2 separate regions of the Homo sapiens genome follow, and region 1 is linked to region 2. The links come from fine-mapping of genetic effects on gene expression. A gene starts in region 2. The other region holds a variant in brackets. All regions are shown on one strand. Distances are between the middles of the regions. Region 1 holds the start of LOC124902791 (a long non-coding RNA gene). Region 2 holds the start of ARHGAP32 (Rho GTPase activating protein 32).

The links. PIP is the estimated chance that this variant, and not a neighbour inherited with it, causes the effect.
Region 1: its variant is fine-mapped to the expression of ARHGAP32 in iPS cells (PhLiPS, PIP 0.95).

The regions. Positions count from the first base shown.
Region 1 is chr11:129,282,715-129,299,101 of GRCh38, forward strand. LOC124902791 (a long non-coding RNA gene) reads right to left here and starts at 12,444. Exons shown (of 2, transcript XR_007062950.1): 1 at 12,004-12,444; 2 at 2,246-4,090. It overlaps LOC399975 (a long non-coding RNA gene), which reads right to left and starts at 450. Exons shown (of 2, transcript NR_145484.1): 1 at 312-450. It also overlaps the pseudogene ZNF123P. RefSeq lists an enhancer at 317-818. The variant G/A (reference allele first, on the strand shown) is at 8,154.
Region 2 is chr11:129,184,799-129,201,185 of GRCh38, forward strand. It overlaps ARHGAP32 (Rho GTPase activating protein 32), which reads right to left and starts at 7,527. Exons shown (of 23, transcript NM_001378024.1): 1 at 7,285-7,527. The coding sequence starts at 7,400.

The DNA of each region.
Region 1 (16,387 bases), 98 kb after region 2:
TGCTGCCTGCCCCAGGGCTCTGACCGTGGGCCCCTCCTGTTCTCTTTCTACACTGCCACCCTAGGCAGCATCCTCCAGCAAGGCTTTAAGTAGCCTCTACTTTTAACCCTGGCCCCTCCCCAGCACTCCACCCTCTTATATCCTGCTGCCTCCAGGCATCTCCATTTGAATATCTCCCACTTAATGTGTCTCAAACAGAACTTTTGATTTCCATATTGTAAACAAAACCCAAAACTGATTCCTCCAAGTCTGCCTCATCACAGGACAAAAAATATCTCTTCCTTTCAATCACCACGTTCATTTTAGCCTACCTTCAAATGGTACGGAAGCCAATCGCATCCTTCTCTCTTAACCACGAACACCCATGTCTGCCCTCCCCGTGATCTTTCTCCTGGGTGACTGGGACAGACGAACCATCACCCTGCTTCCACTTTTTCCCCTCCACGGTCTAGCCTCTACACAGCCACCAGAGAATTTATTGTAAAGCATTGGTAAGATAATGTCCTTGTTCTTGCCCAAAACACTCCAGGGCCCTGTGCTTCTAATCACACTGCAATAAAATCCAAAGTCCTTTCCCAGCCTTTCAAGTCCTTTCAGCCCTGACTCACCAGTTCAGTTTTTTACCTTTTGCCATTCACTCTGCCTCAGCCACACCCACCTCCCTCCTGAGGTTTCTCAGACCTGCCAGGAAGACTCCACCTTCCTGGCTTTTAAATTAACCTTCCTACTACTATATAAAATAGTTCTGCCTTCTCTGTCCCCTTACTCTGCTTCTTTTTTTTCTCATAGCACTTATCACTACATGATTATGTTGTGTAATCAATATTTATTATTGGACTCTGTTCCTAAAATGTAAGCACCATGAGGGCCTGGACTTTGTTTATTCACAAATGGGTATGTTTATGCCAAATGAATACATAAATGGTACTATCAGGGTGCAAAGTCTTTATACACACTTCTTACCTGCTGTTGTGTATTGCCATGGATCTATCTTTATACTTAGTACAAGTGGAAACAATTGCAAAGTGTAACATTATGTAATTTAAATTTCCTGTACTTTCAGCTCTGACCTCTCCCCAGCCCTCCAGCCTCATATATTCCACAATAAAATTATATCATTTGCAGTGCACTGCAAGTCAAATCAAGACAAACTATACTGAAAATCTAAGAAAATATCAAGATTCAGCAGAGAAAGGTACATATTACATGAGGAATTTAGTGCCCGTAGGACAAAATCACAGTCTAACCTTGCAATTAGGTTTTAATATGTAGAAATTAAAGGCACAGAAAAAGCCAAATTATATGAATTGGCTTCTCAATCCAAACTGAAATAATCACCATGGTGAGAAAGAACATAAATTTTAGGAGGACAAGTTTCCCTTTCATTTTTTATCTTATCTCACTATGTAGTCTTGGACAAGGCAATTAACATCTGTTTTCCCATCTGTAAAATGGGCTTGCCCGCTGTCCTCTTTAGTTGGGTATCATAAAGATAGAATGACTTAATTATTATAAAAATGTTTTAGAAGAAAGGAATTTTGCAAGTGAACAGTGATTATTATTACTTTCCAAACTTCTTTGTGTAATATTTTGAAAATGAGGAAGAAATAATATATTTTTTCAATGTGTCTAAAGACTGAAGTGAATCAGCATTTCTAAATCATGCAGCACTTCCAAAATTATCAGAAAAAACTTTTGGAAGTCGCGAAGCAACCTGTAGAGTCACCCAAGTATATCACCTACCATGGGAGGCTCTATATACTGAAGCATTAGGAGGAACAACACGTAATCCATTTTATAGTCAGAGTGCACTATGATCAGGAAGTGAAAGGAATAGCACGGAAATGCAAGCATTTGTGTAAAGTATTAATTCCACTTCTTATCAAACAATATAATGTGGAGATCCTTGAAAGAATGAATGAACAAAGAGGCAACTATAACATTTCTATATATGACATGCTTCAGGGCAGCAAAATGTTTGGAAGGAGAAAGAGATCTAGGGGACTTTTTGAAGCTCTGTCTCCAGCAAGCATGCTGCTTTATTTAGAGCGTATGTTTAATTGAGGTGACTTGGAGGAAGCTAAATCTCCCATTGGTGGCTGTGACAGTGGTGAGAAGTTGCTATTACTCATAAGCGCGCACACACACACACACACACACACACACACACACACTTTACTGTAAACACATTGAATGCTCCACTCCTCCCTCCAAGCTTGGCCTGAATCAGCACTCTACTCAGTGATGCTCCCAACCCCAAAGGCTTTTATTAGATCTAAAGAACTGAAACCAGTGTTGAGGAAATGCATGGGAAAGTGACTTGGGAAAGCTAGAGATCAAAGAGAGGTCACTCAACTCCAGGGTGGCTGCTTTCCCAGGGTGCTCCCAGCAATTCCCCTCCCACGATTTTGTCTTTTATGGCTTCCAGTTTCCAGAACTTAATGCATCTCAGAAGGTCTAAAACATCTGTGTTTTTCTGCTATATTCAAAATACTTGTTGGCGGAGGATTTACCGATGTCTCTGACACTGCATGCAGTGATGTGATGTTTCCTGGGCAACTTAAGAACTGTAGTAGGTAATCCTATAAGGCATTTTATTATTTTTTAAAATCACTTGTACTTGGCTTGGGAAGTTATCTTGTATTTAACTTTAAGCATAGATGATCCCTGGATATACTGAGGGCTAGGGGACATAATGTGTCAGACAAAATAATAAAACTACCCTATCCAAATATTATTCTCCTGTTCCCTACTTAATTTTTTCTCTTATGTATTTCATGCTGAAAACAAACAGCATTACTCCTCAGAGTGATATAAAAGGCCAGTCTCAGGCAGAGCTGATAACAGACTCAAACTGACTCGTTGACTCCTGCTTTCCCCAGTCATGGTCTGATTTTAAAAGTACTTATCTGTAGTTCTTGATTGATTTAAAAAAAAAAAAAAGCAGCAACTCCCTTACTCATGGTAACAGAATGCTCTGTTAAAGAATACTACAACAGTGATAGGTTGGGTCAAATAGTTGAGAAAATTATAATTTAGGCAATGCAGAGTTTTCTGTGCACCTTTCAAAAGAAAACTTAGTGCTTTATCAAATATGAGGCACTATTAATTTTGAGAGAAATTCAGGCACAGAGAGATTCAAAACCTATCTAAAATTCAGTCTATGCTTTATGATAATAAAAGAGAGATATCTCTTTTTTGTAAATATGTGTTGATGGCCAGGTCACACAAAACAAGACGATACTTTTTTAGAGATGGGGGTCTCACTGTGTTGCCCAGTCTCATCTCAAATGCCTGGGTTCAAGCGATCATAGCTTGGATTACAGGTAGGTACCACGGAAGCCAAGGCAAGAGGATCACTTGAGGTCAGGAGTTTGAGACCAGCCTGGGCAACATAGCAAGACCCCATCTCTAAAATATATAAATAAATACAATTTAAAATATTTTTAACGTTATCCGTGCATTTCTGTGCATCACAGGAGAAAGTCCACCAGAAGAGTGCAATCCTTCTCCACTCTCTTTCGTCCCCTTTACTACTGGAGGGGAGAAGACAAAGGGTCCTTACATTTACATTTCCACCACCGCCTCTAGTTACCATACCTGGGGCAGTTGGCTGTAACTCTTTCCATGCCCACAAGAACACAGCATTAAAAACAAAACCACATTCAAGTACAGTGACTCCAGCTAAGCTGTGGCGTGTTGATTAGCCAAACCATTGGCATTTCACATGCCCAGTCCTTGCTGTTCTTTGATGGGCAAGTAACCCCGAAGAAGAGAGCAATTTTTCCATCGTCACCCATTTTATAATTACTAGCCCTGCTTCTGGGCTGGCTGTCACATCCTACACCTCCCCAAATCCTCTGGTGCAACTTTTTGGGAGAGTTAAAACCTCCTCGATGTCACCTTGGTACTATAATGATGTCCTTTGACAGAAGAAACAAAGTCAACCACCATGTTCTCCCTGAGAAGTTCAGGAAAGTTTGATTCTTCCTTTTCCAAAGGAGAAAAGTATCTTCAAGGAGATGACTAAATCTTACTCAGAAGCATCCTTCTTCATTAAGTTCTCATCTGTATGGTACCATGCTGGAGGCTGGGCAAAGAAAAGCAAATAATGAGACCCTTCCATTTCTCTATGCTTTGGGTTTAAGATCGACAAAACCCACAAAAGCTAATCTCCGAGTATACAGACATCAAACAGCTGTGCAAACATTGGACAGATGCATAAATTAAATACAAAAGTAAATAAAGTATTTACATTATGTACAAGTCATGCAGCTGCTGTTACTACACTCCACGAAGGCTCCAGAGGGAAGGAGGGACATTAAGCTGAGCAGATTGTCTTTTTCGGTCGGGGATGGTGTCAGCAGGAAGGAGCAGAAAGGTCACACATGGCTCGAGGAACAAAGACAAACTGTTACATAAACTCTTGTCTGCTGGTGCACAACCTCTAAACGTAGTCTTCAGAATGAAGCAACTTTGTTTCTCAGAAATAACTTTTATATCTCAGACTATGCTTTTAGGAATCTGTGTCAGTAACTAATTTTAAAGTGTCAGGGATGGCCCCATGGCCAGCAACAGCAGGAACCCAATGAGATGACCTAAGAGATCACAAGAACTGTCCTACCTCAAAGACTACCTTGATATTCTACATGTGTCCAGGGTGGGAGAAATAAAATGAATGGCAGTAGCCCACTGCCATTGGAAACTCTGCCTGGTATCCTGCTGCTGTGGAAATTTCCTCAGTCTTCTCTATGGAGGAACACAGGATGCAGCGCAGCTTTGTTTAGCCTAGATTCCCATACTCTACACCTGGAACATAGGACACATGAATGATTGATGAACTACTAAGCAGCTCATGAATCTCTCCTTACTTTAGGAGATAAAAGGGAGGATAGCCTTTTGTGTTTATGTTAAATTAAAATACCATTTTTATTCAGAGTAGCCTGTATAGTGTTCTATATTTGAGGAAAACAAAAAGATTTAAAAAGAGAGAAAACAACACAAGCCCCTGGTTTAAAAAAATTAGAAATGGCAGTAAAATGGAAAAATTCATAACTACAATTCAGAGGTAATCATTATTAATATTTTGGTACATATCTTCTACATGTCTTCATGTACATGGATATATATAAAAAATTTTAACAGAAACAAGATCATACTGAAAATAATGCATGCAATCTGCTTTTTTCCCCTTAATGCTTTTTAAACTTTTCTTGCCAATAAATATTTCTACATTATTTGTATATAATCATATGTCTATGCCATATTTTTTTAGTCCCCTGTTGTTGGACATTTCTAGTGTCATGATTTTTTTTTTTTTTTCTCTAACTTGTAATGGCTGGTGGAGCAATCTTATCACTAAAGGTGTGTGCACAACACAGACTTCTGAGAGTCAGAATTCTTCCCACACCCACCGGCTGATACTTAGAATTCCATGCCTAGTGCCTCAGTCCTTTGCCTTAAGGATTTTGTTTAGTTAAAAAGTGAGTCCCAGGAGAGCTGTTTCTTAAAACACTATCTGACACTGATTTCCCATTTTTCCTTGGGAAGTCCCGAGGAGAGTCGCAAAGACTGGTTTTATGCTGAGGTCTTGGCCCTGGGCCTTGGCTGATGAAACCAGAAAAGTCCCCAAGTTCACGCATGTTCTGGTAGAACCGTTACAATTTTATAATTGACTAAACTCCTTGAGCAGTTGGGAACACAATTAATGCTGGCTGGTACTAATTATTGCCTAAATTCAGTTTATTATAGGAAATAGGTTCAGTTCTTAGCATATTCCCTCAGGACCTGGTCCACATATTCATTAATTTTTACTCCCAAATACTTTATATTTGTATGGTTTTCTGTAAATATAAATCTATTTACCTTGTAGCCTATCTTTATTACTGCATGTTCATTGAATTAAACTTATTCAGACCTCAATTTTTCATTTCACTTCTAAGCAATATAACTGTGATCAGTCATATCCCAGAATTCAGGACTGGTACTGTAATCCCCACAGAGATGGTATAGTTCTTTTTATCTACAAATCCAGGATTTTCTTTAACCCAACACACATGTCTGTGAGGTGTGTTATCACAGTATAACATACCTGGTTACCCTGTGAAAAGCAGAGCCCAGGAAGAGTGAAGGTTCCTGTTTCTATGCAACCATAGGTATGTACGTGTGTGTGTGTGTGTGTGTGTGTGTGTGTGTGTGACAAAGAGAAGAAGAGAGAGACAGCGAGAGAGAGACACACACACACAGAGAGAGAGAGGGACAGAGAGAGAGAGAGAGAGTATTTATCTGGAGAATAGCTGTACATCTCCAGGGACCCAGGATCAGCAGTGTCAAGGTCTACCAGGTGCTTATGAAGTGCTAATTGCGCTGTTACTGAAGTTCAGTTTCCACCAGAGACTCACAGAGCGACCTTGGGGAAATGATTGAATGCTTCCATTCCTCCAATCTCACACCTGAATACCGGGGATGATAATATTGCCCAACTCCTTCCCTTACAATGGCATAAGAATGAAGTAGCTTACAGTTGGTGTTTTGAGAGTCTGTGGGAGCATTATTACTTCATGCTACCTTTTTTATATGTAACTTTTGTGCACTCAACCATTAAGGAGGGACAACTGTGCCACGGATGTTTCTTTTCTACGCTGCTCTCTTGGGGAGAGTGTCCAACTGCTGAAACTTACGTATGAAAAACGAGAGCAAGAGAGAGACAGAGAATGAGAAATCATAACCTCCCACTCACATATATTTGGCATTTCAAGCTTTGAGCAATTAATAACCAACTCCTTGACTTGGAAGCTGTCATGCTCACAATGCTGTTTGAACTGTTCCCACACAACCCACTGAACACACCTTCCTTCCAGAAAAGGCTGTCGCAGACGCACTTTTCAGCCTTGAAAGACAAAAGAGTAGACTTGAGCAAACACGAAGACTTTCATAAAATGGAGTAAGGACGAAAGTCTCTAACTCCAGAAGACCAGTATTTCTAAGCAAATAGTCCAGTTGTTTCCTGCCATTCTGAATGTTTCTGCCGTTCTGAATATGTCTGCCATTCTGAATGTGTTCATCGGGAATTTGAGTGTGGGTTATCTGGATCCCCTTCCTCTGACATGCAGGACCTTGTTGCACCACTGGGAGTTCCACAGGAAAGGGAATGAACAAGGGAGAGTCTTTAATAGAGAATTGTGAATATGTCTACAGCCATACCACCCTGAACGCACCCGATCTCATCTGATCTCGCTAGCAGGGTCGGTCCTGGTTAGTACTTGGATGGGAGAATTGGGAGTAAGAAGAAAATAACTACAGCCTGCACTTCAAAGAGCAGCAAGGGCCAGCAAAAGGAGCCTGAAGGGACCGAAAAGTTGAGCATAGCTGCGGATAGAAACAGAGCCAGTGGGCAGAGACAAGAAAACCAAGGCAGGAAACTGTGGGGTCAAGAGCAATAGGGAAGCCTGTCCCTATTGTGGGTCCTGGGTAACCCTGGGACACATCGACTGGCTCTTCTTTGCTTATAAGGCAGGGTGTATAGGAAGACTCATTACCTAGCGCTAAGGAAGGACGGGTAAGATGTAAATAAACCACGCTGATTTGCAGCCACTCGGGAGTCTCTGGCAGCTAGGCTGGGAGAATAGCATCAATGTTAACAGCTAGGGATGAAGCAGAGTAAATATTTGATGTAAGATAGCAAACATAATCAATAACGTGTATCAAACATTTTCTGCTCCTTCTAAAGGTTCATGTTAATTATAAATATGACAGTATTTGGAACAATTTCAAGTAGATAGAATCATCCCTGCTTTGCAGCCCAGAGAACTGAAGACAAGGGCTAAATAATTTGCCTAACATTATACAGTAACCAGTAACACTGTGTTTTAAACTCAGGTCTTTGTGCCTTCAGAACCCCAGTTCTCCTCAAACTTGAGAGAATTAGGCACACACGTTGCTCCTCTTTCTCAGATATTCTGATTTAGTAGTTCCAGTGTGGAGCCCGGGGGTCTGCACTTTAACACGCATCCCTAGTGGTGTCGACATAGGTGCCCTAAGCCAGACATTCCAAAACACCATCCTCCACCAAAGGCCAGAAACAGCCAGCTAGGAAACAAGGGCAGAAATAAAATTGTAGGAAAAAGTGTAGAAGAACTTTCACCCTTAAAATC[G/A]TAGACCTGATACCCTATGGTAGTCCTGATAGTCTACTTATTTTTTTTCTCAAAATACGTGTTTCCAAAAGTTAACTCATTTGGTACCTAGAAAAATCAGGCTTCCTTGGCAGCTTAGGTCCTGTGGATCCTACTCCTTGTTGAACGCTGGGTTAGGACTACAGACAGATGTCTCCGAAACATCTTAGGACTGTACTTTAAAAAGCACTCAGGACAGGAACATGAGGAGAGATCATTTCTCAGATGTGACAGTCCCATTTCACTGGCTCTAACCAGAGTAGAACGAGAGGAAGGACTTGTCTTTCCAGCTATTCCCCAAAACGACTTTTAAACAAAGGGACCCGTTCTCACAATTACCCACCAAACAAAGTGCTTTGATAAAAATCACTACTAGGTTTCCCAACTGGGTGTCATTATCATGCATTAACCCGGCATTTCTCTTCCTTTGGTTAAACTCTTGAATTCCTGTATCAAGCTTGAGGGAGAGAAATCGGTCTTGCTCAAGATGTGTTTTCCCATCTCCCAGGGTCCCACCTTTAGGGCCAATAACTTTCTTTCTACCTAGATTTTCTTAAAGATGTTGAGAGATAGGATTCCAGTAAAACTACAGGAGCTGGCCGTAATTAGTTTCTTTGCAACGTTCATTTCTCCAAATGAGAGCAAAGGGGCCATTTGAATAACTCATTATCTACATTAGCTAGACATGTTCTTGTTGATGTCTTCTTAAACTTTCCTAAGTCTTCTCTAGCCTTTCTTTGCTGCACTTCCACTCCAGTTTGTCTGTAAGCGCCTTTGTGGCCTCCACTGCAGGCCTCGGGCCAAGGGAAAAACGGATTCTTTTCATCTATTCAAGTGTGATCTGGGACAGACAAGCCTGCTCCACAGGCGAGAGGCACAGAAGAGTGCTCTGTATTCAGCTCGCAGCTCCACATAGTCTGTAGTGGGGGCCCTGCCCTTGGCAAGGCCAAAGCAATGACCAGGGCCATTTGGCAGGAACAGGAATGCTGTTTGGCCCCTTCTCTTCACCTGGACAGGGTGCCCTGTCCTGCAGGAATTGTATATCCTATTCCAACTCACTTCCTCTAAGTTCACTTCCAACATTAAAAATCACCTCCTTTTATCTCTCAATCAAAGCAGCATTTTTTTTTTTTTTGAGATGCCGGGTAAATTCAGAGCACATTACGGTTGCTACATATGGAGATGGTTAATACAATAATAACTAATGAAACTTCCTTCCTGTCTCCAATACATAGGGGACTCAAGGCTGGAGATATTGGCAGGAGAAAGGAACTAGGTGAAAATAGAGATGGAGCTAGTAAAGATACCTTTCTCTTGTGTCTAAGTTGCTAAAAATATGCTTTTCCTCCAGTGCCTTTTAAACATTTTACCTCACAATAAGCCTGATAATGTTAAGCAACAGCGCCCACCATTCCATTACTCAACACCGTTCTGAAGGTGCTTCATGAGAAGATAAAGGAGCTACAAATATTGGTGAAGGAGCAGCAAAATTATCATTATTTGATTATAACATTATTATAATCAAATATGGAAATGCTTTAATAAATCTATTAAAAATAACCTAACAATACAGTAAGAAGTTAGGTTATACACACCAAAAAACTTTCTTATATTCCAAAAAATAACCAGTTGGAAAATAAAAACTGAAACAACTCCTATTAACAACAACCAAAAGGTAAGTTACCCAAGAATGTGTATTATTTAAATGAAGGAAACTATAGAACTCTGAGGAGAGGGAAAAACAGACAAGGTGCTGAATAGTTAATGTCAGTATTGTAAAGATGTCAGTTCTCCCCAGTGAAGCTATAAATGGAATGAATTCCAATCAAAATCCCAGTAAGATATTTTTAGGAAAAACATAATCTATTAACAGATAATTTTCAGAAAGGTAACATCCTGACTACCCAGCAAATATTAAGCTCATGTCAAAACTTTTATTCAACTCATTAGTTAATGAGGAAACCAGTAAGGTATTAAGACTGATTCTGAGAGTGTTTGAACAATTCATTTCTTATAAGCAATCTAACAAAGAAATGTTAGGATAAGATTGCCAAATTTGATTTAAAAAAACAAACAAACTGGTTATTGCCCAATAGACCATAACTCTTTGAGGTGATCTGTTTCAAATGACAGAAATTATCTGCATCTCTACCGGACAGAAATCTGCAACTTAGCAGGTAACTTCCGTACAATTTAGCAAGCACTTCACTTAGCAGGTAATTAGTCTGGGACCTTTAATCAATAGTAAACAATGAACTAAGTACATTTCCCTACAATCCTAAGGTGGCCTTTGTTCCCATATGACATTAAAAGGATGTGCTGCTTGCGCTCAACTTATTTCTAGAATTTGAATTTTTCTAAAAATTCTAAATTTCATTGAAAAAAATCAACTTGAGAGTCACTAGGTAATTTTTGAAAAACAACAGCAAACACAAAGGAAGAACAATTTGCTTTACTTATTAAAACAAGGCTGGTAATAAAAGGAGGAGGATGACAGTCTTACCTTCTCGAAATTATTGAAAGTCTGGCATCCGTTTTCAGCAGCCATCCCTGCTTTGAAACTTGGGCAATGGATATTTGCCCGTGCATAGCACGCTCTCATTCTCTCCCTCTCTCTCTCTCTCTCTCTCTGTTACTTAGAACTGCTGCCATCAAGAAAGCTGGCTCTCCTCTCTACCCCTTCCTCTACACCCAGTCCCACCATTTCCAATCTAGCTATCACTAAAGCCCTAATAGGTAACACTTTGGTTTATTACATATAGCCTCTGTTCAAAGCACTTCTACGTGCATCAATACATTAAATACTCAACACAAACCTATGAGGTAGATTAATTGTCATCCCCACTTTACAGATAAGGAAATTAGAACACAGAGTTGCTATAACTTAAGCAAGGTCACGCACCTGGGTTCAAACCAAAGTCATCCTTGCTGTGTATTATTATTATTATTATACTAACCACTACCCTCTGCTTCCTGCAATGGGCAAAATCAGGCTGCCTGCAAAAGTGGCAGATGGGCAAAAGAGTACATTCACATCTTCCCTCATTTCCGCAGGTAACAGAAAATAATGGCAGGTTCTTCCCTGTTCATAAAAAATAACTAGATGAAGTTGCAAGAAAATGTTTCCTGCCTTGAGGTCACTTGGAAGAGCGGTGAGATAAATTTAAGACAGGCTGGGCCTGGTGGCTCATGCCTGTAATCCCAGCAGCACTTTGGGGGACTGAAGCGGGTGGGTCGCTTGAATCCAGGAGTTTGAGACCAGCCTTGGCAACATGGTGAAACCCCATCTCCACAAAGAAATACAAAAATTAGCGGGGCATGGTGGCATGTGCCTGTGGTCCCAGCTGCTCGAGAGGCTGAGGTGAGAGGATCTCTTGAGCCTGGGAGATGGAGGCTGCAGTGAGCTATGATTGCACCACTGCACTCCAGCCTGGGCAACAGAGTGACACCGTGTCTCAAAAAAAAAAAAAAAAAAAAAATTAAGACAAATAGGGCCTTGCATCTAATTCAAAGGATATGTACACCCTGAATTTTACAAAGGCACAGACTGCGATTGAGTAGCACAGAGTAAGAAGGGTGGGTGGACACCGTGCCCCGGGTAGATCTCTGAAAGTTTCACCCTATTAAGGGTGTCCTGCAAGATGCATACAGCTCCACATGGACAGAACCCCTCTGTTTTTGCACTTAGGAGACTTCTGATATACAGACTGAAATAGGGTGTCCACATATCTGTCTTTTTATTTCCCGGTTTATCCCTTACTTAGTGTTGCTCTCTGAGAAAGGATGCATGAGCCTAACTAATGCGTCTGAAATGCCTTTATTCTATACTTACCCTTGAAGGCATAGAATTCTGGGTGGAAATCATTTTCCTTAGAACTTTGAAGGCATACACCATTGTCACCTAATTCTCAAGGTTGCTGTTGAGAAATCTAAAGCCATGCTCATTTCTGATCTTTTGTTTCCTTTCTCTAGAAACTTTTTAGGATTTCTTCTTTAAGCTTGGTGTTTTCATAAATCACGGTGTTGTTCTTTAATGTAGGTTTCCCCCAATCCATCTTGCTGGGCATTCGGTGTATTCTTGAATCTGGAAACTTACATTCCTCTTATGTTTGAAAGTTCTGGAGTTTGTTTTTTATTTCTTTTCTAACTGTGAAGAGAGTTCATGTTGGGGAGGCAAGGGCTCAGAGAATTTGAGGAACGTTTCATGATGGAAGCCAAGAGTCTGAATTAAATATATGACTGGACAGGTGGAGAAGTGGGCATTCCAGATATGCAGAGCTGTGGGGACAGAGGCATATGGTTAAGAATCAACACAGTCCAGGAGAGACAGTGGGGACACTTAAAAATCATGCAACAGGGAGAAACAAAGAGGGGTGTAGTGAGCCTGATAGTGGCTAGCCCTATGCTTAAATGGGTGCCTTTTGAGTGTGTGGCTTCTGATGCATAACGAAGTTTCCACACCAGCTGAGGGGCTCCCACACCTTCTACACTCATAAGGTTTCTCACCAGTGTGAACTCCCTCGTGCTGAATCAGGGTTATTTTCTGATCGAATGCCTTCTTGCAACCCTTACATGCAAAGGGCTTCTCTCCAGTGTGAATTCAGTGATGCTGAGTCAAGGCCGTGCTTAATAGATTCCCACACTCTTTACATTCATAGGGTTTCTTCCAAGTGTGCATTGCTGATGGACAATGAAGCTTGAGCTACAACTAGAAGTTTTCCAATGTTTGTTACACTCACAGAGTTTCTCCCCAGTGTGGAACCTCTGGTGCTAAAGGAAGACTGAGCTATTGCCAAAGGCCTTGCCACCCTCCTTACGTTCAGAGGGCGATTCTCCAGCGTGGATTCTCTGATGCTGAATCAAGGCTGCATCTGAATTTAAACCTTTCCCGCATTCTTTCCATTTAAATGGTTTATTTCTAGTGTGCATTATCTGATGCCAAACAAGTAATGTGCTGCATCTGAAGTCATCCACATTCTTTGCATTCAAAACTTTTCATCACCGTGACCTCTCTGATGTCAGTGGAAGTCTGCCATTTGACTGAAATACCTGTCACATTTTCCACATTCATAAGCTATCTGACCGGTAGGAGTTGTCTGATTCGTAGAGTTGTGTGCTGACGCTAACATTTTTTCCTAATTTCTCACACTTTCCCCTCTCTCATCAGCACAGGCCTCCTGATGCCTGGTGGACCCATCTGTGAAATCTCCCCTCTTTGACTTTATCTTGACCATCCAGTGACCTTGGGGCTGCTCTAGGCTGCTCCCAAAATCTAGGTGCTGGGGAGTATTCTCTGGCAGCCCTCCCAGTGTCAGTCGGAGGGATTCTGTTTCTTTGGACCTATGCTCCTTTGGAATTAGTCCTTCCTTCTCATTTATGGTTTCACTCTGAGATTCTCAGAGATAGGGGTTCCATGGGAGTTCCCCTTTCTCTAGCTAGGAGACCAGAACAGGATAGCTGAATGAAAAAGTCAGGGAAGCCACCCCTGCATAACGCTCCAGCATCACCTCTCTGTATAGGGCCCTCTGCACAGGGTCCTGGCTGGCCCTTTCAATCTGGTGAGGTATGCAAGTGCTTCCTCAAAGGTCACTGGCTCCTAGGCAGAGTGGTCTAGAGTATGGCTGGCATCCCCACCTCACACTCTCCTTTGGAGTTGGGAGAAGTAAGACCGGACCCTGAGTCCATTTCATGGCATCCACTGACCCCATGCGGCACAGACACAAGGAAAGCCCACTGAGGCCCTAATAATGCTTATGCTTTGGCTCCCGTTTAACCCAGTTCTTTGTCTTTATCATTGGCCAGAGCGCTGGAGGTGGGGAGGAGTGAGGGACATTTCTTACAGTCATCATGTTTGTAGCAGTCCTTCTCATCCAAATTAGACTGCTATTTTGAGGATTATTTTGGCATTTTTGGTGAAGTCTTTTCTTCAATTTAGAGACCCGTAGCAAATACCTATTTTCCCTTGCTTCTAGGAGCAAACTCATACCCATCATTCATACACAAAGTTGCAACATCTTTTTTTTTTTCCTCTTCACTTTCTCAATAGCTTTTGACCAAATGATATCCTGGAAGAAAACTGAACTGAAAGAATCAGGAGATCTGAGATTTCACCCAGAATCTGCCAATAATGAGAAAACCCTGATCTCATTTGTGCAAATTAGGATGATTTGCCTTTTCAGATTCCTTTCTGCCCTGGTTCTGTGAGTACTGTTCTCCAGTCACATGTCCACCGATGCCCTGAGCACCGCTAAGGAAGGCACATGATGTTCTCAAAAGCTCTTTTTCCTCCCAGCCCTCCTGCACTTGTTTAATATGGGCAGTGTCCCTGTTGGGAGCTACGTTAGGGATGCCAGTGACTCTCCCCTCCCCAGGGTTCTTGCAAATAGAATAAAAATCAAAATGCAGTCTGAATGGGGGTCAAAGCTCTCTAGTGATAGCTACACAAAGAATTTACCTCATTCTTATTTGGACCAGGGTTGGTTTCTGATTGACCCAGAATCCAAGTCTAACTATTTCCTTACCAAATTAGTCTCTTCTAAAAGAGAATCCTCACATTGCTATTTAGCAGTCTTTCTTCGTGGTATACCACTTCATCATTCAGAAGTCTTAACATTCTTGATAACAATGTGTAGTTATAATACACAAAGGTATTGGCTAATTTTCTCTAGCAATTTCAAATCAGAGATTTCCTCTTGGTCATTTTGTATCTTCTTCAGGTAAAAAAACAAAAACAAAAACTGTATCTCTACCTTGCCCAAATCTCTGTGAGAAGTAAAAGAAAATAATCATTCCAATGTTTTGCTATGAGGCTGACACCATTCAGATGACTGGCTGAAATTTTCACTTTTTTTTTTTTTTTTTTTTTTTTTTGTGAGACAGTCTTGCTCTTCCGCCCAGGCTGGAGTGCAGTGGCGCGATCTCGGTTCACTGCAACCTCCGCCTCCTGGTTTCAAGTGATTCTTGCGCCTCAGCCTCCTGAGTAGCTGGGATTACAGGCATGAGCCACTATGCCCGGCCAGGTTCTCTTTTCAACCAAGTGTTTTGTGTGAGTTAGAGAGGGCTGGAGTTCTTCCATTTAGAATTGACCATCTAAGCAGCACTCCTGCTGTGGCAGGAAAGAGGCTGAAGAGCAACTTGAAAGGTACATGTATCTTGAAGTTTTGAACAGAAATATTAAATATTCAGCCTATCTGTCCTGCAGTCCCTACCTGATTTAGAAAGCAAATTAATACCACCAGATTGACTAGGAGTAAATATCTCATCTGAAGAAATATTATAGTGTGGCCATGGTAATACAATACTTATTTGTAGCAACTAAAATATGTATCCTCTGGTATCCTCTTTGAGTGCTATGGATTGTTCCTAAAAAACCCCAAAAGTATTTTCAAATATTTTAGGTGATAAAAGTTTAGGGCTATGTTTGACTCCACATATTTTAATTCATGTTTGTGGATTTTTAAAATAAACTATTGGTTTCTTTTAACAATTAGTTTTCCTTATAAATATTTTTCATCAAGCATAAAAATTGTTTTACTATTTTAAAAAATAACAGCATACCACATAGTGGTCATTGTATGAAAATGGGCAATACTAAATGGGGGTTACATTAAGTATGCAAAGGAGGAGTCCTAGCATGACGTCTACCCTATACTTCTTGCAGATTCAGACCTGTCTGGGTATGTTTGAATGACCAGCCAAGCAGGTACCCAGAGGTCTAGCTGGCTAAGGCATTGAGAAGCTTACTTTAAATAAAGAGACCTAGAAATGCTGAAGCGGGGCCAGGTGCGGTGGCTCACACCTGTAATCCCAGCACTTTGGGAGGCTGAGGAGGGTGGATCACCTGAGGGCAGGAGTTCAAGACCAGCCTGGCCAACATGGTGAAACCCTGTCTCTAATAAAAATACAAAAAAATTAGCCCAGTGTGGTGGCTCATGCCTGTAATCTCAGCTACTCGGGATGCTGAGGCAGGAGAATTGCTTGAACCCGGGAGGTGGAGGTTGCAGTGAGCCAAGACCGCGCCACTGCACTCCCCACTGCACTCCATCCTGGTCAACAAGAGTGGAACTCCATCTCAAAAAAAAAAAATGCTGAAGCAGGTGACCAGCCCTGTTCTGACACCCCTGTATCATTGGAGTTCTTTTAAGTGCCAAGAACAGAATATCCTTAGAAGTGGTGTAAACAATAGGCAGATGTTCAAAGGCAGTTGGCATCTGGGG
Region 2 (16,387 bases):
TGTTACCTACAAAGGAAAAGAAAAAAACAGATTGGCATTTGAGCTTATACAAGAAATCAGAGAATATCACCCAGAGAACTTAACTGAACAAAAATACTTAAGAACGTATCAGGCAAATACAAATGATCCAAAACTGATACATTAAGATAGAATGTGATACAGAGAAGAAGCAACATAAACACTAAACAATGACACACTGTTGGTGGGACTGTAAACTAGTTCAACCACTGTGGAAGTAGGTGTGGCAATTCCTCAGGGATCTAGAACTAGAAATACCATTTGACCCAGCCATCCCATTACTGGGTAGATACCCAAAGGATTATAAATCATGCTGCTATAAAGACACATGCACACGTATGTTTATTGTGGCATTATTCACAATAGCAAAGACTTGGAACCAACCCAAATGTCCAACAATGATATACTGGATTAAGAAAATGTGGCACATATACACCACGGAATACTATGCAGCCATAAAAAATGATGAGGTCATGTCCTTTGTAGGGACATGGATGAAGCTGGAAACTATCATTCTCAGCAAACTATCACAAGGACAAAAAACCAAACACCACATGTTCTTACTCATAGGTGGGAATTGAACAATGAGAACACTTGGACACAGGAAGGGGAACATCACACACCAGGGACTGTTGTGGGGTGAGGGGAGAGGAGAGGGATAGCATTAGGAGATATACCTAATGTAAATGACGAGTTACTGGGTGTAGCACACCAACATGGCACATGTATACATATGTAACAAACCTGCACGTTGTGCACATGTACCCTAAAACTTAAAGTATAATAATAATAAAAAAATGACACAAATAATTAAATCTGAATGAAAAGCAAAAAACATTAAACTGACGGAGGCAGAATGGGTGAATAAAAGAGTTTCAAAAGTCTCATCTAGAAGTATGAGACTGAGAGAAGGAGGAAGTTAAAGTTTCCTAAAGATCTTATTTTATAAGGAAGAGAAGTAGAGGAGAAGAGAGAACCATGATTTAAAACACAAACATACATACACAGAAAGAGAGAGAGAAAACCTGGGTGAAAGAAATCATTTTATTTTCAAATAGAGAAAATACATGTATGATTATGAGAACATGGAAATGGAAACTAATCATTAATGTAAAGAAAAGTATAGCGCAACTTCCAAAATTAAGTATCTGGGAAGGTTTTGCCTGCTCTGAATATCATCTTGCTAAGCTAGTCACTTGACATATTTAATTTAAAAAAAAAGAAAATTAACTAATTTATAAATAGAGCTTTAAATGTTTCAGGGATTTCAATTTATTTTTGAAAGTCCTATTGACTATTTAAGAGAGTTCAGTGCCAAAGTGAAATGCAAGAGTTAGAAAAATTAGGTTTGGGTTTAAACTTTTTAACTTCAATTAAACAACCTAATAACCAGGAACTTTTATACAGGTCTATATCGTTTGTGTACTCTAGGGCCTTTCTTGAACATCAAAATACTCATACAGATAGATACAAGAAAGGCCCACCTTGGACTCCATCCCAAAGGGCTTAATTACTAAAATACCAAGAAAGTCTTGTACTGGCATGCCTCACGGTTAAGACAGATTCATTTCACAGATTATGAAGACAGCCTAATGGCTAGACTCCATTACTGCCTAAAATGTTCTGAGATTAAGGGATGTTCATATCAGACTTTGCTGATTACTATTAAATTCACTGATGAGAGTATGTTGGGTGAATGTTATACTTACTGTTAAAAGAATATTTTAGAAGCTTCTACACAGCAAAGAAAACAATCAACAAAGTGAAGAGACAACCCACAGCAAGGGAGAAAATATTTGCAAAAAGGGATTAATTACCAGAATATATAAGGAGCCCAAACAACTCTATAGGAAAAAATGTAATAATCCGATTTAAAAATGGGCAAAAGATTTGAACAGGCATTTCTCAAAAGACGGCAACAAATGGCAAACAAGCGTAGGAAAAAGTGCTCAACATCACTGATCATCAGAGAAATGCAAATCAAAACTACAGTGAGAGATCATCTCACCCCAGTTAAAATGGCTTATATCCAAAAGAAAGGCAATAACAAATGCCGGCAACAATGTGGAGAAATGGGAACCCTCACACATTGTTGGCAGGAATGTAAATTAGGCAACTACTATGAAGAAAAGTTTGGAAGTTCCTCAAAAAAACTAAAAATAGAGCTACCATATGATCTAGCCATCCCACTGTTGGACATATACCCAAATGAAAGGAAATCAGTCTACTGAAGAGGTATCTGCACTCCCATATTTGTTGCAGCACTGTTCACAATAGCCAAGATCTGAAAGCAACCTAAGTGTCCATCAATGGATGAATGGATAAAGAAAATGTGGTACTTATACCCAATGGAATACTATTCAGTCATAAAAAATAATGAGATTTAGTCATTTGCAACAACATGGTTGGAGCTAGAGGTCATTATGTTAAGTGAAATAAGCCAGGCACGGAAAGACAAACATCACATGTTCTCACTTATTTGTGTGATCTAAAAATCAAAACAATTAAACTCATGGACACAGAGAGTAGAAGGATGGTTACCAGAGGCTGGGAAGGGTGGTGGGGGCATAGTGGGAGGCTGGTGGGGATAGTTAATGGGTCCAAAAAGTAGTTAGAATAAATGAATAAGGCCTAGTATTTGATAGCACAATAGGGTGACTATAGTCAATAATAATTTAATTGTACACTGAAAAATAATTAAAAGAGTATAATTGGATTGTTTATAAAACAAAGGGTAAATGCTTGAGGGGATGGATATCCCATCATGAGGGGATGGTTACCCCATCTTCCATGATATGATTATTACACATTGTGTGCCTATATCAAAACATCTCATGTACCCCATAAAAATATATACCCACTATGAACCCCCTAAAATTAAAAATAATTTTTTAAAATAATATTTTAGGGGCTAAACTAAATCCCAGATGTTTCTTCAAGGTTACAAAACAATATAAGTTGTAGCTTTTTGGGCAAAATATACATCTTTTTTGACATCATAAGTAATAGGTTATTAAAGATGTGGTGCCTTTGAAAAGCCACACAGTATAAAATGGGCCTGGGTGTGATATGGTATTTATGGACATACAGTTAATTGGGTTTTTTTGTTTTGGTTTTTTTGTGTGGTTTTTTTGTTTGTTGAGGTTTGTTTGTTTTTGAGATGGAGTCTCATTTTGTCACCCAGGCTGGAATGCAGTGCCGTAATCTCAGCTCACTGCAATCTCTACCTCCCAGGTTCAAGCAATTCTCCTGCCTCAGCCTCCCAAATAGCTGGGATTACAGGAACCCGCCACCACACCCAGCTAATTTTTGTATTTTTAGTAGAGACAGGGTTTCACCATGTTGGCCAGGCTGATCTCAAACTCCTGACCTCAGGTGATCTGCCTGCCTCAGCCTCCCAAAGTGCTGGGATTACAGGTGTGAGCCACCATGCCCAGCCTCAGTTAATTGTTAATACTACCTCTCTGTACTTCCAGGATCATTAAAACTGGCTGGGAAGCCTGAAATCAAGAATTTCTGCAGAAGATAAAAGAACAGGCAGAGTAATAAAAACAGAAAATCTTGAAATTGTTTTATGGGCTTCCAGGGGAAATGAGCCATTAAAAGAAATCATCTAGATCTGATCTGATCGCCTGGGCCTGGGAGTTCAAAGCTGTTTTGAGCCTAGAAGATGTACAATACCACAGTCAAGACCCTTACTACCTACTTAGACTGCCACAATAGCTTCTAACTTGTGGCATCCTTCCAAATAAGATAACTGGTCCACGGTCCAGGGGTTGGGAACCCCTGAGGTAGAGGATGAATAATGCAACCAACCAACGAGTCAAGTGCATGAAGTATCATTAGTTCTATAATGCTATAAATCAATAAAGGCATTGTCCCCCCCAATTAAAATATGTTCACCAAATCATCCAGTTTAACTAAAGTCAGAACTTTCTCGTCACTTAAAATGAATTGCCTTAATAATGGAGATATACGTGAAGATCAGCGATCTGGGCATCTACAGATCGTGATCAAAAATATGGTTCAATTAAGCACTATATCATCTCTGTAGCTGCTTCAAATTATATGTCATATTTGCCAGGCTGTCTATCAGCCCATAACGTGGTATTAGGGAAGTCTAAACAAAATCATATGATAAACATTTCTACCTTCAAATGCCAAAGAACTAGAACCTTTCATGATTCCTAGGTGTCCTAGAGGTCACATTTTTTAAAAGTCACATTATTGTGTTCATTACTTCATTTTTATGATGGTCACATAATCTATATGTCATTGATGCTCATAACCTCCTCAAAAAAAAGGAATTTCAAAACTTGAGATATCAGCTGTAGCCTCTTATAAGTTATCACTTAGCAGAAAATAGCATTTAGCAGAAGATAGCCCCAAAAATCTTTCATTAAAGTCTTCACTTTCAAAGTCAGTTACATCTGGGTTCAAATTTTTGTGCTACCACTTGCAAAATTTTGCTCCACCATGACAAATGTGGGCTGTGTGACTCTCTGAGCCATAAATTCCTCACCGAGGAAATAGGAAAAATGATACCTGCTTTATAGGAGTGATAAGCAGTTAACTGATACACTGTATAAAGCATATATATGGCCTAGTACATTACATATAACAATTTCTAAGTAAAGTTTTTCTTTCTTGATAGAATTAAAACATTTATGTTTTTCCTTTTCTGCCTTATATTCCTCCTTCTTATCCAGGGATGGATTTTTCTAATCATCTCTAGGAACTATTTTATTCTAAGGACTAAATATTCTAGTCTAATAACTATTTTACCACAGTGACAAGGTAGGTAATAATACCGACTACAAATAAGAAATCAGAAAATGAAAGATCTGTGAGTCAATGGCAGACAAATTTAAACTACCACCATGAAGGAGACCGGCAACTTCCCATAGTGAAAGAGTGTTAATAAAAAGGATCCTTTCCTCCAACTGAGTCCAAAAATAAATGCTATTTCAAAAGCTACTGGACAAACATTAACTTGTCTCTGAGACTACTTCCTCCTAAAGCAGATGGCACCTGGAAGCACCAGAAGCCTACATTCTAGGTGTGGTATGACTTTACTCTCTTAGCCATGGTGCCTTAAGTTACACAAGAGCAGGCTTTTAAGAGTGCATTTAAAATGTAGTTTACAAGCTATTCAGGGAAAAAGAAAAGTGCACAATCTTTTGCCCTCATCTCAGCTATGTGTGTGTATGTGAATGGAAATGTAACCAATACGACAGCTTGATGTCACATGTATTTGCAGAGATTTTTATAAAAACACAGTAAGACATTTTTAAAATTATTACATTGATTTTACAAAAACAACTGTCATACCACACTGAGTCTACTATTTGGTCCTCCCAAGGTTACAGCTGCAACTCCTATCCGACCCTTCCCCTTCCACACCCATGCCTCCATTTTCCTGTAGGGCATCTCGGCAGGAACACCACCACGAGGTTGTGAAACCACTCTGCTGCCACATTTCCTCATGCCTCACTGCTGAATGCGTGAGAGACACTACATGAAATTGGGCCTTGCCCAGACCTCTTTGTTACATTTGTAAATAAAATCAGATCAAATCACAAAGATATAATTGATTTAGGAGAGCCATGGTGCTATTCAGATAGGAAATATAAACAGAAGAGAAATGCCCTATGGTATCATAGTTTCCTTAAACAACACATCACTAGCTCAGTTTCTCAGAGTGAAAATGCTGTCACATACTCCCAAGGAAAAGAAGAGCTCATCCTTACACAAATTTGCTTTTAACTGTCAAAAGAAAATCCCAGAGAGACGCCCACTGCCTTACAAGTAAATCTAGGATTACAGTACCAAATCTGTTATAAAAACAACAATGAAATAAGTTCCAAGTTGTTTCTTCCTTTGACAAATACCCAAATAACTTCCATAATTTGAATACCAGGTCAAAAAGTTTTATTACAAGCAAAACAAATACTTCAGTCCTACTCATTGTTAGCAAGACACAAACCATATTAAAAAGCAGAACATGTGACTAACAATTAGCATACCTTGGAAGGGAAGGGACTTACTCAAATTTGAAAGGCTAGATAAAATTATGGGAAAATGAGACAAAAGTTCAGACAAAAAATAATCATATGCTAATAATTCATTTTTATACTCTGAAAATTATTCTTTTAAAATTTTAAATATACTTCTCATTTATTTGAACCCCAGAGTAAAAAATTTAGTGAGGGTTATCAAGAGTTCCCAATATTCAATCCCTTCCATCATTTAACCTAGACTTTAAAAAATAAAATTTGTGGATAAAGAAATCCTTTGACTCGAGAAAAGGAGAAACTCTTTTTCAGCATTAAACACAAAGACAGTATCTGATGAAAACAGTATATTCACCTATCCAAGTTCTCATAGGTAAACTTATAAAAGATGTTTAATTGCACATGTGAGTGGCAGTGATAATATGCAGCAACAAACTTCAAACTTCATCAAGAGATTTTTGTGATACTCAAAGGTATTACATCGCTAACTCTGAAAGAAAAAGAAAAGCCAGAATAAAGCCCCCTAAAATTTGCAACAGTACAACAGAATGAATGAAACATTGGTTCTGTTTTCACAAACTGGTTAAGACATCTTTCTTCACCACAGACACTAAACTGAGAGCTGCTTCATCAGGAGGCATCCTCTAAAAACTTCAATTATGAAGTTACTAATACTACCAGAGATTCAAAAACCAAGAGAGATTTGGGGGAAAGGGGGCATGAGATACAAGATCAGAGACAAGGGTAAAGATCAAAGCCACAAAATAACCAATCTGTACTTAATCGGAATTTTTCATACCCATGCATAAGGCAAACAAAGCAGGCAGGCAGGCAGGCACGCACACACACACACACACACACACACACACCACATTCCAAGAAAAAGAGGAAGAAAAATCTATTAGATACAAATTCAGATCAAATCTATTTGATACAAATCAGATACAGGAAGGGGTAGTAGTTCATTATGAGTGTCTACTTGAAATTCCTGAAAGGCTACTACAAAACCTGTCTAACACCTTCTCCTCCTGGCGTTCTAACAAGTCCTTTAAAATGCATTTTACAAGTTCAGGGCAAGTTGTGGAATGAGGAGTGCTATATACAACTCAAAACCTGCTCCCTTGAGCTCCAAACCTTCCCCCAGAAAACAGAAAGTCTTATTGGAAAAAAGACCGAAATGCAGAGAAGAAAAAGGGGTGCGGGTGGGGGTAGGGAGTGGACAGGACAAAGGAACTGTGAATTCCATAATCACCTGAACTTCTCTTCCCTTTCTTCCTCTTCACAGTCAGTCACCTGGATTATAACTTCAGACTCCAACCAGAAGACACTGTCATCCCCTAAAGTGCTACTCTCACTTTCAGTCTCCATCTTGTACTTAAAAAACAAAAAAAACTAAACCTCCAGGCATGGAATAAAAAGCACCAACATTCAGGTTGTTCAGCTCTACTCATGTATACTCAGATGTGTGTCTGGTGCCCTAGTGACAGGTACTGGTGCTGGTTTAATTACAGTCAGGGTACAGACAGGAAATCACAGGCAGCACAGTCACTGCGTCTGACTGCCATACTGGTGACACCTAGACCCTCCCACTGCCTTAGGCTGCGTGACCTACATAACCAAAAGCAGAATCTAAATGAAGGTGATTTTTTACTAATTATTCTGTAATAATGACTCTTCTCAAAGTTTCCACTTAATAAGTTAAAAATAGGTATTTTCAAAATGCAGGCTTTATTTGTATCCTTTTTTGATCTCGGACTCCAGAAAGGTAAATAGAAAACTAGAAAGAATAACACCATCCACTGGCCAAGCACATGAGAAGCACAGTTATAGATCTCACAGTTAAGGAGGCTCACAATAAGTAGAGAAGATAAGTATGCTCTAGGGACCTGCCTAGGTTCATGCCTTCCAATATTACACCCATCTTTCCTTCCTCTCAGTAAGGACTGCCATATGCATCTCTGCTCAAGTATCCAGAGTGAGACATAAAAGCTGGGCTTGTCCACAGTCCTTGAAAGAAAAAAGTTTAAGTGTCCCAAGTTCAAAGATGCTGACAATCACATCAAATAAAAGCATGCAAAGTTTTACACATTTAAACTGCAAACAGTCATGGTGGCAATAAAATGACTTGCTGGGAAATGAGTGAAAGGTATAGCATCTATGACTGTCAACAACACAACTGTTACTTAGAAAAGAGCCATGTTGACAGAAACTACTGACCTGCTGGATATTCATGGCTATTTGTCTTTTACCAAGCAGCAACAAACTGCAAAGCCCTGACTTTCCACTGTATCTGATTTAATCAAAAATTAAGAAGACATCTACTGAAGTCTTCTTGAATTTTCATATTTGAAAAATAAAGAGCCAAGCACAGTGGCTCACGCCTGTAATCCCAACACTTTGAGAGGCTGAGGTGGATGCATCACTTGAGCTCAAGAGTTCAAGACCAACCTGGGCAACTTAGCGAGACCTCATCTTTATGGGGGGGGGGGGGGGGGGGCGGGAAACAGCCAAGTGTGGTGGTGCACCCTGTAGTCCCAGCTACTCAACAGGCTGAGGTGGGAGGATCGCCTGAGCCTGGGAGTTCAAGGCTGTTGTGAGCCATAATCACGCCACTGCACTCCAGCCTGGGCAACACAGCAAGACCCTGTCTCAAAAAAAAAAAAAAAAAAATATATATATATGCAGGTCCCTAGAGCATATAATATATATATTATATATAATATATATATATTATATATAATATATATATATTATATAATATATGTTATATATAATATATAATATATGTTATATAATATATATAATATATGTTATATAATACATATACAATATATATTATATATAATATATAATATATATTATATAATATATAATATATATTATATATTATATATTATATATAATATATATTATATAATACATATAATACATATATAAATTTTAAAAACTTTTCAAAAAAAATTTTTTAAACCAAAAACAACAGAACAACATTATAAGCAAAGTCAAAATGCAAACAAGTTGAGAAAAAAATATTTGAAACATATCACAAAGGGTTAATTTATTTAATATATAAAAAGTTCTTAAAAACTTCTAAGACCCAAGAGCTCAAAAGATAAATAGGCAAAGAGCAAAAATATAATACTCAGAGATAAACATAAAAGAAACTTAAAAGATGTTAAAAGTAACTTCACTGATAACAGAAATGTAAAACAATACATAATAAGATGACTTTTAAAAAATCTATCACATAGGCAAAGCTTTTAAAAGGTTTTAACAAACTGAAAGAGGACATGGGAAAAGAAACATGCCTGTCAGTGGGAGTTTAAACTGGTACAACCTGTGTTCAGGGCAATTTAGCAAAATCTACCAAAATTCAAAATGCACATCTTTTTGGCCCAGCAATTTCTCTTTTAGGAAATTATCTCACTTTCACAAGTAGAAGTAAGAGGCAAACAGGAACATTCATTCTGGTAGACATTATAGTAGCAAAATAGGATAGCAAAAACAACCTAACTTCCTGAGGAATAGAAAACTAGGCAAATTACAGAATACCCATAGAATGGAATGCTACACAGTGAGTATATGAGAAAACAAGGCAGCCCTACAGGTCACAATACGGAACAAAGCCTAAGGAATACTGTTAAGGCAAAGAAGAAAGGGGTAAAAGTATAGGGCAGTATGTGCAGTATGCTATGCTGCCATCTGTGTTTTCAATGAGGAGTTAGGAGAAACAAATGCAGACTATCTATGGAAGAAGAGGATCAGTACTAGTACCAGTAGTTGTCTCCACGGAGGAAAACAGACAGCTGGAGAAGAGGAATAAAAGAAAGACACGCTTGAACCCGGGAGGTGGAGATTGTTGCAGTGAGCCGAGATCACGCCATTGCACTCCAGCCTGGGCAACAAGAGTGAAACTCCGTCTCAAAAAAAAAAGAAGAAAGAAAGATAGTTTTTCACTATGTCATGCACATATAATCCTTACCAAAATATTAACTAATTTTAAATAGAATCTTTCATGACCTTCAGTAAAGAATTGGATTTTTAAATATTATTTCATTAAGAATCTAGTTCTTTTTTTTCTAAACAACTCTAACTCCTTCAAAGTGTTGTTTTTTTGTGGGGGGGGGGGTTGTTTTGTTTTGTTTTGTTTGTTTGTTGAAACAGGGTCTTGTTCTGTCACCTAGGCTGGAGTGCAGTGGCACGATCTCGACTCACTGCAACCTCCACCTCCCAGTTCAGGCAATCCTCCTGCCTCAGCCTCCCAAGCAGCTGGGATTATAAGTGTGTGCCACGACACCTGCTAATTTTTGTTGTTGTTGTTGTATTTTTAGTAGAGATGGGGTTTCACCATGTTGGCCAGGCTGGTCTCGAACTCCTGATCTCAAGTGATCTGCCTGCCTCTGCCTCCCAAAGTGCTGGGATTACAGGTATGAGCTACTGTGCCCGGCCTCAAAGCGTTTTCATGAATCCTATTCACCTTTTCTTTTAATCATTCTTTTGTTCTTTCATTATGATGGTTGATTTCCCTCACTTCGAGCCTTTCAAAAGTGAAAACGTGAACTGTGAGTGGTATTTTTACACAGAATACTGAAGGACAGTTAAATGTGCACATCTTCCGAGGCTTGTTCTGTTTTGACTCTGCCATCACAAGTTTTTTAAAAATGTTTTTCCTGCCTCAGCTTCCCGAGTAGCTGGGATTACAGGCACCCGCCACCACACCCGCCTAATTTTTTATTTTTAGTAGAGAAGAGGTTTCACCATGTTGGCCAGGGTGGTCACAAACTCCTGACCTCAAGTGATCCACCCGCCTCGGCTGGAGGTTGCTGTGAGCCGAGATCACGCCATTGCGCTCCAGCCTGGAAGACAAGAGCGAACCTCCGTCTCAAAAAAAAAGGAAAAAAAGTTTTTAAATTCAAAACCTACATGTGTTTCTGTTTTCTGTTCCCTTCTCCAGTAGTAAATGAAAATCCAGCGGAATCAACAGGTGATGGTTAACAGCGGGGGCAGGGATGGAACACAGCCGAGTCCATCACTCTGGCTACCAGTGTGTGAGAGAGACTAGATACTGCTGAAGACCACAAGGTGGTTTTAACTCCTTTTCTTCCTGATTTGTTTAAACCCTGATCAGCCTTCACTTTCCCAACAAGCTTTTATGGAGCTGAAGTCTTTGACTGAAACCACAGGAGTCACCAGCAGTAATTTCGAACTAGCTGGTTCTCATCTTCTACCTCCAAGAGGTAGGGAACCTGAGGGGAAGGGAAATAGCTAATCCCACAGCAGCAAAGAGAGAAGCATTCTTACAGCAACAATTTAAACACTGCAAGTCAGAATGAATTTTTTCGAAGAGAAACATTGTTAAAAGTGCTGACTTTCCTAGTAGCAGTGGTAAGTAGTAATAATCACAGCAACAGAGTTGGCCCACAGGTTCCGTATGCATGGGTTCTGCATCCATGAATTCAACCTCTTGGTTGAATCAAAAATACTCAGGGAAAAAAGAGGGATGGTCCTATCTGTATTGAACATGTACAGGCTTCTTCTTGTCATTATTCCCTAAACAATACTGTATGCCAACTATTTACATAACATTTACATTGATAGTTATTATAAGTGATCTAGAGATGATTTAAAGTATGAGAAGATGTGCATAGGTAATACGTAAATACTACAACATTTTATATAAGTGACTTGAGTATCTACAGATGTTGGTATCCACAGGGTGTCCTGGAAACGATTTCCCCATGGATACCAACTGATGACTGCATATGCTGAGCACTGACTCTATATGCCAAGCATTGGATTAAGGCCCAAACATAACGAATTATATAATTCTCCCAACCACCTCATGAGGCAGGAGCCATCATATTACAGGTGAAGAAACTGAGACTTAGCATCATAATTTCTCCAGGATTATCCAGTTCATAAACTTGCATTAAAAATACTTTTCAGGCCAGGATCAGTAGCTGATGCCTGTAATCCTAGCACTTGAGAGGCCAAGGCAGGGAGATCACCTGAGGTCTGGAGTTCGAGACCAGCCTGTCCAACACGGTGAAAACCCGTCTCTACTAAAAATATAAAAATTAACCTGGCTTGGTGATGCATGCATGTAATCCCAGCTACTTGGTAGGCTGAGGCAGGAGAATAGCTTCAGCCTGGGAGGGAGAGGTTGCAATGAGCCAAGAGCGCGCCACTGCACTTCAGCCTGGGTGACAGAGCAAGACTCCATCTCAAAAAAAAATAAAAATACTTTTCAAAAATCCAAACCTAACCACACCATATGAAATGTTACTTCTGTGGGAAGACTATATGGTTTGCATTTTGGTCCACATTCCACTTATTAGCCTAGACGTCTCTGATCTCACAGTTTTTTATTTTCTCCTTTTTGGGGGATGGGCCATGATACTGCTGAAATGCTGACCTACATCTAATTCTATATCCAATACCCGTTATCTACATGGCTGAATGCAGTATACATTTGGGTTCACTATCAGGGGAGGGGTATGGACAGGATATCACACAGCAAAACAATAGCAAAGCAGTAGAACCAAGATCTTGATGCTCTGACATCGTTGTTCCTGTTCTCCCATCATAATAATTGTTTTTTTCAAAACTGTTCAATACAGTGCATGGCACATAGCCAAGGGGTCAATAAATGTCTCCTTAATTGGGCACCAAGCTTTGTCCACAGACTGCTTCATGAATATGAATATAAATATAAATATAAAATTTCTCAGAAAATTTTGTATTCTAAATGTGAATAATGTGTGCTCTGTGTAATATATATGTATGTATCATATAATTGTATCAGAAAGAAAAATTAAGCAAGAATCCTTCTAAAATATTTCCAATGACTGAAGATTTTCCTCCAAATGTATGGAGCACAATATATATAATGTAAAAATGTCATTCATCATTATTCATTTTTATACTATCTATACATTCATTCAAAATTTAGATTTTTTTATAACAATCATTTTTGTAGGCGTTTCCTCCACTGAAATAATTAACTTTGAAAAAACAACTCTTTCCTTCTTTATTATGGAACACTGATGTATTCTGGATCATTATATATACATTGACATTTGGTTTAATTCACAATGGTATCTAAAGAGGAAACAATTCTTATGCATACTATGGCAACTTTATTTCATGAAAATATCAAAAATAAAGAATCCAGTTAATTTAATATGATTCTCTACAGGTAACTTTAAACATAACAGAAAAGGTCTACTTGAATAGAAAACTGACAATTTCATGTTAGAGCAGATTTTGCTTCACTAAACACATGTATTCAAAGGGAGATCTAACTTTCAACTGTTCATAGAAGCTAAATGATATTTCTATAAAAAAGTTAAAATGGCTATCTTAAAATACATCATCACCATTGCAAGGATATATGAATAAAAATCACTTTCAAAAAGCTGTTCTTATAAAACCAGAAAAAATAGAAATGGAGGTACTGTATTTTGAAGTCAAACAAGCTCAGACTCAAATATCAACTATGTCATTTACAAATAGTGTGGTCTTAGACAAGTGATAAGGTTTGGCTGTGTCCCCACCCAAATTTCATCTTGAATTGTAGCTCCCATAATTCCCATGTGTGGTGGGAAGGACCTGGTAGGAGACAACTGAATCATGGGGGTGGTTTCTCTTAAACTGTTCTCATGCTAGTGAATAAGTCTCACGAGATCTGATGGTTTTATAAGGGGCACCCCTGTCGCTTGGCTCTTATTCTCTCTTTGCTGGCTGCCATGTAAGATGTCCCTTTGGTCTTCCTTCATCTTCTGCCGTGATTTTGAGGCCTCCCCATGCATGTGGAACTGTGAGTCAATTAAACCTCTTTCCTTTATAGATTACCCAGTTTCATGTATGTCTTTATCAGCAGTGTGAAAACAGACTAATACAGTAAACTGGTACCAGTAGTGTGGGGCACTGCTGCAAAGATACCCGAAAATGTGGAAGCAACTTTGGAACTGGTTAACAAGCAGAGGCTGAAACAGTTTGGAGGACTCAGAAGAAGAAAGAAAAATGTGGGAAAGTTTGGAACTTCCTAGAGACTTGTTGAATGGCTTTGACCAAAATGCTGATAATGACATGGACAATGAAATCCAGGCTGAAGTGGTCTCAGATGGAGATGAGGAACTTGTTGGGAACCAGAGTAAAGGTGACCCTTGCTATGTTTTAGCAAAGAGACTGGTGGCATTTTGCCCCTGCCCTAGAGATTTGTGGAACTTTGAACTTGAGGGAGATGATTTAGGGTATCTGGCAGAAGAAATTTCTAAGTAGCAAAGCATTCAAGATGTGACTGGGTTGCTGTTAAAAAGCATTCAGTTTTATAAGGGAAACAGAGAATAAAAGTTCAGAAAATTTGCAGCCTGACCATGCAACAGAAAAGAAAAACCCATTTTCCAAGGAGAAAGTCAAATCAGCTGCAGAAATTTGTAAAGTAACAAGGAGCCTAATGTTAATCACCAAGACAATGGGGAAAATGTCTCCAGGTCATGTCAGAGATCTTTGTGGCAGTCCTTCCCATCACAGGCCCAGAGGCCTAGGAAGAAAAATGGTTTCATGGGCCAGGCCCAGGGCCCCCTGCTGTGTGCAGCCTAGGGACTTGGTGCCCTGTGCCCCAGCTGCTCCAGCTATGGCTAAAAGGGGCCAAGATACAGTTTGGGCCATGGCTTCAGAGGGTGCAAGCCCCAATCCTTGCCAGCTTCCACAAGGTGTTGAGCCTGCAGGTGCACAAAAGTTAAGAACTGAGGTTTGGGAACCTCTACCTAGATTTCAGAGGATGTATGAAAACACCTAGATGTCCAGGCAGAAATCTGCTGCAGGGGCGGGGCCCTCCTGAAAACCTCTGCCAGGGCAGTGCAGAAGGAAAATGTGGGGTTGAAGCCCCCACACAGAGCCCCCACTGGGCACTGCCTAGTGGAGCTGTGAGAAGAGGACCACCGTCCTCCAGACCCCAGAATGGCAGATCCACCAACTGCTTGCACTGTGAGCCTGGAAAAGCTGCAGACACTCAATGCCAGCCTGTGAAAGCAGCCAGGAGGGAGGTTGTACCCTGCAAAGCTAAAGGGGCAGAGCTGCCCAAGACCATGGGAACCGACCTCTTGCATCAGTGTGACCTGGGTGTGAGACATGGTGTCAAAGGAGATCATTTTGGAGCTTTAAGATTTGACTGCCCCACTGGATTTTGGACTTACATGGGCCCTGTAGCCCCTTTGGTTTGGCCAATTTTTCCCATTTGGAACAGCTGTATTTACCCAATGCCTGTACCCCCCATTGTATCTAGGAGGTAACTAACCTTCTTTTGATTTTACAGGTTCATAGGCAGAAGGGACTTGCCTCATCTCAAATGAGACTCTGGACTGTGGACTTTTGAGTTAATGATGAAATGAGTTAAGACATTGGGGGACATGACTGGTTTGAAATGTAAGGATACAAGATGTGGGAGGGGCCAGGGACAGAATGATATGGTTTGGCTGTGTCCCCACCCAAATCTCATCTTGTATTGTAACTCCCATAGTTCCCACACGTTGTGGGAGGGACCCAGTGGGTGATAACTGAATCATGGGGGTGGTTCCCCCATACTTTTCTCATGGTAGTAAGTAAGTCTCAAAAGATCTGATGGTTTTACAAGGGGAAACCACTTTCACTTGGTTCTCATTCTTTCTCTTGTCTGCTCCCACATAAGACATGCCTTTCATCTTCCACCAAGATTGTGAGGCCTCCCGAGCCACATAGAACTGTGAGTCCATTAAACCTCTTTTTCTTTATAAATTACCCAGTCTCGGGTATGTCTTTATCAGCAGCATGAAAATGGACTAATACAACAAGCAACTTAAATTGAGTCTCAGTTTCGTAATCTCTAAAATAGAAAAAATAATACCTTTATGATGTTAATGTATAAAATAGAAACAATGCATATAATGAAACTATAGTAGTATACAGTACAAAGTCCTCAATAAATTATAGCCATTGTCATCATTATCATCCCTGAACCATAAAATGTTTTCATTACTGTGATTATAGAAAAATTGAAAAAAAATCTTAATCTGTAAATCTCTGGCTTTTAAAAAATATAATCACTCTGTAATTTTTATTATTATTTAAAAGAGAGTGCTAATCTAAAAAATAAGAAAAAAGTCCCTATTAAGCCAGTAAGTTATTTTCTAATTATCTGAATTATTTCCATGAATGTGAAGTATGGAAAATTAACAACTACAACAGAAACCCATATTCTTCCTTCATCACATTAATACAAGGATTACAAAGAACATATAAAATCAGATCATAAGACAATTCAACATGTCATTTCCAGTGTTAATAAGGGATATTAAGTGGAAATTTCATAACCG